Linked DNA regions of Homo sapiens. The protein of the gene in region 2 purifies or fractionates together with the protein of the main gene of each other region. This does not show direct contact. Each region holds a gene or a part of one and is shown on either strand. Other genes may lie near its edges.

Region 1 (3,823 bases), on a different chromosome or scaffold from region 2:
TAGCTCTTAGCTCTCCTCTTCAGGAATTGCCTCGCTAATAATACATGTTTCTTTCTTATACTTGGGGTACAAAAATTAGTATCTCAGACTGCTTTGGATAGATTCAACATACGATGTTGGGTTTTAATTGATAATGGATGAGTTCAAGGTTTTGGCCCATAGAGAAGCTTCCCACCATTATGTAGGCCTTCTTTGTACTTACTTGTACCATCTTTAGACTAGGTTTATCTGTTTGAAGTGTTATTTTTTCCCCCATTCAGGATATGGTAACCAAAATATGAGATATAATAAGCTGGAAATTTTACAGAGTGGAGGTAGATTCATTGGAGTTTTTTGAAAATTTTAAACTATTTAAAACAATTTTTTTAAACTGTATTTAGGATAAGATAGTTTGAAAGGTTTCATTCATTTTAGAAACTCACCCATTCTGTTTATTTTCAACAAGTTGAGCCACTGAGGATGTTTTTTAGATATGTCTTTTTCCCCTACCCCACATATGTAAGTATATAATACACGTAAATAGAAGATAACAAACTTTTATGTAAAATATTAGAGGTCTTTGAAACACAGTATTTATAATTACTTAGATTTTGGACTTTTCTTCCCTACTTTGTAGAGTCCAATTAACAATGTGTCTCCGTGCCATCATAAAACATGATTTTCCTGGTCACTGGCCAGGAGTGGTCGACAAGATAGACTATTACTTGCAATCACAGAGCAGTGCAAGCTGGCTTGGCAGTTTATTATGCCTGTATCAACTGGTGAAGACATATGAGTAAGTTGGTTTCCATTGGCTGAAGAAAGCAGCCTTGTGTAACTTAGAAATAATGAAGTTGCAAAGAGTGGTCTGTTGTGGATGTTCTGCACAGGTTATCAGATTAGTTTGGGAAATGTTGGGTTAAACATGCTTAAATGTGTTTATTTGCTGCAGTTATTGAAAGAAACTTTAATGTGCTGATGGATATTGCTAACCTCTGAGACAGTGATATAATATGAAGCACTTCTCAAACTTGTTAGTTGCACAGTACCATTTATTAACAGCTTTCCTTGGAAACTCTGATATAGAGATACCTTTATATTTGTCTTCTAGGGAGTATATTAAGTAAACCAAAACATTTACTTTTTTGGATGCAAGATAGAAAATGTTAACGTTTCTTTGCTAATGACATTCTTTTCCATAAAAGTAGCTTGGGTAGGTAGAGGACTAATATCACACTTAATAGTATTGCTTTCTGGTTTCTAGGAAGATTGCTACATGTGTATATGAAGTCCTGTAGTTCTCCTTTTAAACTGACTAGTTCCTACTCTGCTTATGAAATTTATAGAACATATTTTAGATTTATGGCAATTAAAGCAATCTAAGAGCACCTAAATTTTAAACTATTTTAACTACTCAATTCAGGGAGAAATATAATAAGAAAATTCCCCCCATATTATTTGTTATATAGTCTATTTAAAATAGCATAGCAACTTATATTTTATAGTAAGAATTTTGGCTGGATGAAAATTAATTTAAATACTAGAAACATTCATGTAGGAAAACTGCAAAATGGTCTCGGGTTGTTTTAAACTAGTCTAAATCTTTCCAGAAAGATTTTAGGTGTTGTGCCTAAAACAGGATGTGTTATTTTAAATTTCTTTTCAACTTAATTCTAGCAATTCAAACAAACTAGAAGCCAATGTTAATGACTTTGTTTTGTTAGTTTTATGTATTTAAAAAATATTTTATAATTTATTGTTGATGGTTCTTTGGGTGGGAAAAATTACTTTTCTGTTTTTGTCTTTGCTCATGTAGATATAAGAAAGCAGAAGAGAGAGAACCTCTTATAATAGCAATGCAGATATTCCTGCCTCGTATTCAGCAACAAATTGTTCAGCTCCTTCCTGATTCCTCCTATTATTCTGTATTACTGCAGAAACAAATTCTGAAAATCTTTTATGCACTTGTTCAGGTAGGTTTCTATTGCAGAAAACAAACATGGAGTCCTGTATTTCTGCCTGACACATGGAAAGTGCTCAATAAGTGTCACTTATTATTAAAAATTATTTTGTATTATCCCATATATTTCTTTAAAAAATGCTTATGAGGAACAGGTTCACAGAAATTAATTACCCAAGATCGTCTCAATGGCATATCTGCCCCTAAGTGCTTTTCACTCCAGTGTCTGAAATCATGGGTAAAGCAGAACCAGGGTAGGTAAACCTACCTGCTCTAAAACCTGATTACTCGCAACTATCTGTTCTGTAGCATTCCTGCCTATAGATTAGTTATGATTACAAGAGAAGAAGAAGGAAAAGAAGAAGGAAAAGAAGAAGGAAAAGAAGAAGGGAGTCCCTCTTCTATTGGGAAATCATATTGATGGTAGTTTCTTTGCATTTGACTCAAAGCTAACAGAGGATTTAGGGTTCATTTTCCTTGGTTTAAAATACTGCCTAAAAAAAAAAAATCTGAATGCTATAAGGGATACCAACATGGGAATCCGGAAAGAAATGAGAAGATAGAGATGGAATATGTTTGAAATATAAAAATATTTAACATCAAATCCTTGAAAGATTTGGGTAAATTATTTAGGTCTGATTGGAGGAAGAATAATTGTTTTCAGTCTTAACTGTTTGATGAATGAATTAAACTCTATTACATGCTTTCTAGTTGAATTTGTCGTGAGAAGAGGATGGTTTTGTTGAGCTCAAAAACCATGATAGTTTGGATCCATCCTTGGCTTTTTATTGACTTAGATACTTAAACTATTTCAAAATATTTTACTTTAATAAAGATTTATATTTTTATTAAAGCTTCCCCTTTTAAACTTTTAATAGGGATAGTCTGAGGCAGATATTTTTTTTTTTCCCCCAGAGCAGCCTTTTTGCAGGGAAAGAGAAGAGGGAAGGAGGCAAATGTGAGAAGAGAAGAAACTAGAATACTAGGAAAATATGTTCTCTCACTTGTTTTGAAATAATATTCAGAGGCCAGACTTCCTTTTTCTATTGGCAGAAACAGCTAGAAATTGGGAAGTAAGACAAAGGCTAATGAAATAATTTTTCTAAAGCCTCTACCTCTAATTGGTTTGCTAAGACGACAGAATCTTCATATTTTTCTCAGTCTATACTTGCTAAAAACCTGGAAAACCTCAACATTTTTAACCATTTTGGTAATCTGTTATGTACTAATACATTAATATTCTCCTCTGGGAAGTAGAAATTTAGAAGGCATTAGGAGCCACTATTACAATGCTGACATAAGTAAAAAGCGATAATATGAGAAGGAGCAGACAATTTTGTTTTTAAAAGTATGAGCAGCCGGGTGCAGTGGGTCAGGTCTGTAATCCCAGCACGTTGGGAGGCCAAGGTGGGTGGGTCACCTGAGGTCTGGAGTTCAAGACCAGCCTGGCCAACATGGTGAAACCCCATCTCTAGAAAAATACAAAAATTAGCCAGAAATGATGGCGGGTGCCTCTAATTCCAGCTATTCCAGAGGCTGAGGTGAGAGAATTGCTCAAACCCAGGAGGCGGAGGTTGCAGTGATCTGAGATTGCACCATTGCACTGCAGCCTGGGTGACAGAGCGAGACTCCGCCTCAAATAAAATAAAAGTATGATACAACAGATCTTGTCTAAGTAGCATAATATTTGTACAGGACACTTGGATATTCTATACATAAGCTCAGCCTAACCCTCAGCCTACTTCTCCTCTGTTCCCTATATCAAATCCAAATGGCTTCCAAATGCACTTAGAATAAAGTGCATTTGAAACTTCTTAATATAGCCCATAAAGCCCTTCATCTCCTCACCTTCTTCTCTTATTCCTACCTTTGTACATGTACAGT
Region 2 (4,596 bases):
CAGAAAATACTTCCTCCTAATAAGCTGCCACAAGAGATCTGGGGTACTCCTACATGAGCTAATAATACCAAAATAAGTGAGCCTAAATCTAATCTAGTCTTTAGATCCAAATACCAGTGTACAGGTGAAATATAGGAGCAAATTACATTAAAGGCTTTCAAACTTTGTTACATATTAGAATCACTGGGGAGCTTTTAAAACATCCTAATGCCTTGGGTACAATCAAGATCAATCAGCCTGGGTGCAGTGGCTCACACCTGTAATCCCAGCACTTTGGGAGGCTGAGGCAGATTTCCTGGGGTCAGGAGTTCAAGAACAGCCTGGCCCATATGACGAAACCCTGTCTCTACTGAAAATACAAAAATTAGCTGGGTGTGGTGGTACACACCTGTAATCCCAGCTACTTGGGAGGCTGTTGCATGAGAATCACTTGAGCCTGGGAGATGGAGATTGCAATGAAAAAAAAATCAATTAAATCACTCTCTGGGGGTGGGACTTTTAATACATCAATAACTTTTAAAACTTTCTAGGTCATTCTGATGTGCAGCTGAGTTTGAGATCTAATAAGTTAAAGATACTAAAAAGAAGCAATCGACCAAATCCAGAATGTGAGGCATTTTATAAAACAGAAGGTTCAAGTTCCTCAACAAATAAATGGCATTTTTACCAAAAGGAGTGGGAGGGAATGGGAACTGTCATAGATTAGAAGACTGAACAGACTTATCAAATAAATGCAAATGGTGAACCATATTCGGACCCCACTGAAAACAACAACTGTAAAAAGACTGTAAAAAAAAAAAACTCTAGAAATATTTGAGACAATTATTTGAAAATCAAGATAATGATATCAAGGAATTATTGTCAATTTTTTTGCGTGTGATCATGATACTATGATTATATTAAGATAAAAGTCCCTGTATATAAGAAATTGACACTGAAGTACTTGTACTTGTGAGTGAACTAAAATGTTTCCATCTGCAATTTGCTATAAAATGAAAGAGAAGAGAGGGACGAAATGAGGAAAAAAAAGAGATAAAGAGGGGGAGAGGGAGGGAAGGAAAGGAAGACAAAGAAAGGAGGGAGAGGGAAAGAAAGGAGAGAGGGAAAGAGGGAGGAAGTAAAAGGGAAGGAGGGAGACAAAAGGGAAGGAGGAGGAGAAGGGAAGGAAAGAGAGTGGAAAGGAGGGAAAAGAAGAATGAAAGAAAATGACCAAAAGATGATGGCTGAAGCTGAGTCATGGTTATATTGGTGTTCATTGTAACATTCTCTCTACAATTAAATGTGTTTAAATTTCTCTCCAAAATTTTAGAAAATTAAACAATGTCCTAACTTCTTTCCTTCCTGAATAATACAGCCAAAAAGCATTAAGGTAGGGTCAAGGAAGGCGAGAGAGAGCCACAGCCCAACCCAGAGTGAATCTGGAGCCCAAGTGGAATGAGGAGGGTGTCCACGGTGGGGAAGGGAGGAAGTCTATGGCAGGAAAACAACACTGATACATTTATATCATTTATTCCACAAACTCCATTTAGGTTTCACTACCTGGCCCCTACTTGGATCTGAGCCAAACTGATCACAGTGGGAAGGCACAAGATTGGGAAATTGGTTGCCAACACAAAGTATTTATCAAATCAGTAAATATACTGAAGATAAGGAAAGGAAAGTTTCTCATTAACAGAAAAGAGTTACAAGTCTATGAAAGAGCTAACCCTGTAAAAGTTGGGTTGAAATGAAGGGTGTTAGTATGAAGCCAGTTTCAGGCTAGGGCGTTCCTGGAAGCTCGAAAACTGGTGGATCTCCAGCACTAAGCAGGACATCAGATTTTTGCAAAAACCAGGGGTCCTAGTCCTTTTTCACTATTAAAAACTTCTATTGTTCCTCCTAATCTCCAGCCAAGGAAAAGGTACCCCCGAGTCTTAAAGCCTTTGAGAGTTTGAGTATCACAACGTCCAACACAAACCAGTTTTGGTCTTTGCTTTGGGATAGGCTCTTTTTCAGAGTATCTTATTTTTCCCTCCTAAAATATAGAAATCATCCATTACAAAGTGAATTGATGAATGACAGTAAAATTGAAAGCAACCGTACAAAAGCCAGTCACTAATGTGTCATCATAGTTATAAATAATAATAGTACCACTAATAAAAGCAAATCTTTAAATCATGCTTACTCTGCACCTTACCCATACGAATGCATTCAATCCTCACAACAACCCAGTGAGTTAGGGAATATTATCCCCATTTTACAAAATAGTAAAATGAGGCAGAGAGAGAGCTTAGGAACTAGTGAAAAGTCACACAGCCAGTAAGTGGCAGAGGCAGGATTTGAACCAGGTAATCTGACTCCAACGTTCTGGCTCTTGGCCAGTACCACAGAATAATTTAAAGACCTTGAAACTGACCTTGTTACCAGGCAGTGCAAAAATGTAACGGCTCCCATTCTCGAGGCTTGTCTATGTGACCCATGCATCCCGTCTCCAAATACCCTCAAGAACCGACCCGGACACTCGGTAACGGCCCTAAACAAGGGACACCCATATTGGGCTCTACGCAGGAACGCCGAGGACCACTTCATTCCGCCGCAGAGCGCCCTTCCCTCCCCCACGGCTTCTCGCAGGGGTCTCCCTCCTTGGGAGCCGAGGCTGCAGGAACTGGGGAGGGAAGGGCCTCTCTCCACAAACACACACACACACACACACACACACATACTCCTGCAAACGCACCTCTACCCGGGGACAAAAGAACTGCAGGACCGACAGGAGGAGAGCCGCGGGATGAGATTTAACCCCACAGTGGAAGGCCGACGCCGATTCACCCCATACTCACAAAGTGCTTGAAACTAGCAAACCACCCGCAGGGCGGGGCACAGAAGCCACTTCCGGGCCTCTCTAGCCACCTCCCTGACAGACTCTGTCGTTTGCTAGCTCGGCACCTTGTGTCCCCTCCCCTTTTGCTATTAAAGAGGCTTTTAAATTTTTATTTTTCCAGCTATAACTAAGGGAGAAAGGCAAGGTGCAGAATTATTTTCATAATTTGCTATATTTGCGAATAGAAGAGAGTAAAAAGAATCTAAATTATGTGTGCGTGTGTGGCACAAAGAAGCCCTGGAAAAATCGGAAAATTAATAATGGTGGTTACCTACGAGAGGTGAACGGTCAGAAACTGAGTGAAAACGGGGACAAGAGTGAGAAGGAAAGTGTTAGGGTGCATGTTTTAAATGTACTTTTAATTTTAGAGTTGATTGCATTGCCTAATTAGAATATGAATTCTAAATACATAAATTTTAAGGAACATGCTGCGTGGTTTACATAAAAAATCCAAGATAATCTAACACTCAAATTATGATGATTAATAAGAGAGTTTAGCAAGTTGGCTGGACTTTTTAAAATTCATGTTCACAATCACATTCTCCATCAAAATTATAAAAATAGAATTTTTAAAAGACATCTATCACAGAAGCAAATACTTACAAAAGATACCTGAATGGAAACATTAGTAACTTTATTCATTAGGGATAAGTAGTTGAAATATATACCTATATATATGAGACATATATATACACCTATATATATGAGACATATATATACACCTATATATATGAGACATATATATACACCTATATATATGAGACATATATATACACCTATATATGAGACATATATATACACCTATGTATATGAGACATGTATATACACCTATGTATATGAGACATGTATATACACCTATGTATATGAGACATGTATATACACCTATGTATATGAGACATGTATATACACCTATGTATATGAGACATGTATATACACCTATGTATATGAGACATGTATATACACCTATGTATATGAGACATGTATATACACCTATGTATAAGACATGTATATACACCTATGTATATAAGACATGTGTATACACCTGTATATGAGACATGTATATACACCTATATATATGAGAACTCAATATCATAAAGATATCATTCCTTCCTAAATTGATACACAAATCCAGTACAAAGCAAATCAAGATTCCAATTGTGCTCAGTGGAACTTGACTAGTTGATTTTAAATGTATATGGAATAATGAAAGAGTCACGAATCCGAGACATTTTTAAAACAAATGAAGGAGCTGCAGAAACTTGCCCTATATAATTTATTATAAAATTATAGCAGCTAAGACAATATAGTATTGGCACAACTACAGACAAATAGACCAATGAAACAGAACTGAGGACTGAGCAACAAACATGTATGTGTGGATGCTTGATATATGGTGGAAATTGCATTACAAATCAGTGAGGAATAAAGGAGCTACTTGACAAATAGTACTGTAATATTTGGATATCTAAATGGAAAAATGAAATAAAATTGGGTTTCTACTTTATATGTTGCACAAAAAATCAATTCCAGTCAGCTAACTTTCAGACTTTTAAAAGAAAATTTAGAATAATTGCTCTTTTTTCTATTCACAAGTTTGCTTCTATAGAATCATTTTTTTATGAGCTCAAGTAAAACAAGATTTCTTTTAAACTGCATAAACATACAAACTATAAGGAAAACAATAAATAAATTTGACCTCATTAAAAATTAAAACTATATCAAAAGATACTAGAAAC

Evidence for each region.
Region 1: the proteins of ZKSCAN3 (region 2) and IPO8 purify together in Homo sapiens (co-immunoprecipitation; one large-scale study listed by IntAct). This does not show direct contact.

Annotation. Positions count from the first base shown.
Region 1 is NC_000012.12:30,678,611-30,682,433, reverse strand, and holds part of IPO8 (importin-8), read left to right. Parts: intron 1-616; coding exon 617-775; intron 776-1,795; coding exon 1,796-1,952; intron 1,953-3,823. UniProt on the Homo sapiens protein: Involved in nuclear protein import, either by acting as autonomous nuclear transport receptor or as an adapter-like protein in association with the importin-beta subunit KPNB1.
Region 2 is NC_000006.12:28,348,188-28,352,783, reverse strand, and holds the start of ZKSCAN3 (zinc finger protein with KRAB and SCAN domains 3), read right to left. Parts: upstream 2,838-4,596; 5' UTR 2,717-2,837; exon of another isoform or gene 2,396-2,716; intron 1-2,395. UniProt on the Homo sapiens protein: Transcriptional factor that binds to the consensus sequence 5'-[GT][AG][AGT]GGGG-3' and acts as a repressor of autophagy. Specifically represses expression of genes involved in autophagy and lysosome biogenesis/function such as MAP1LC3B, ULK1 or WIPI2.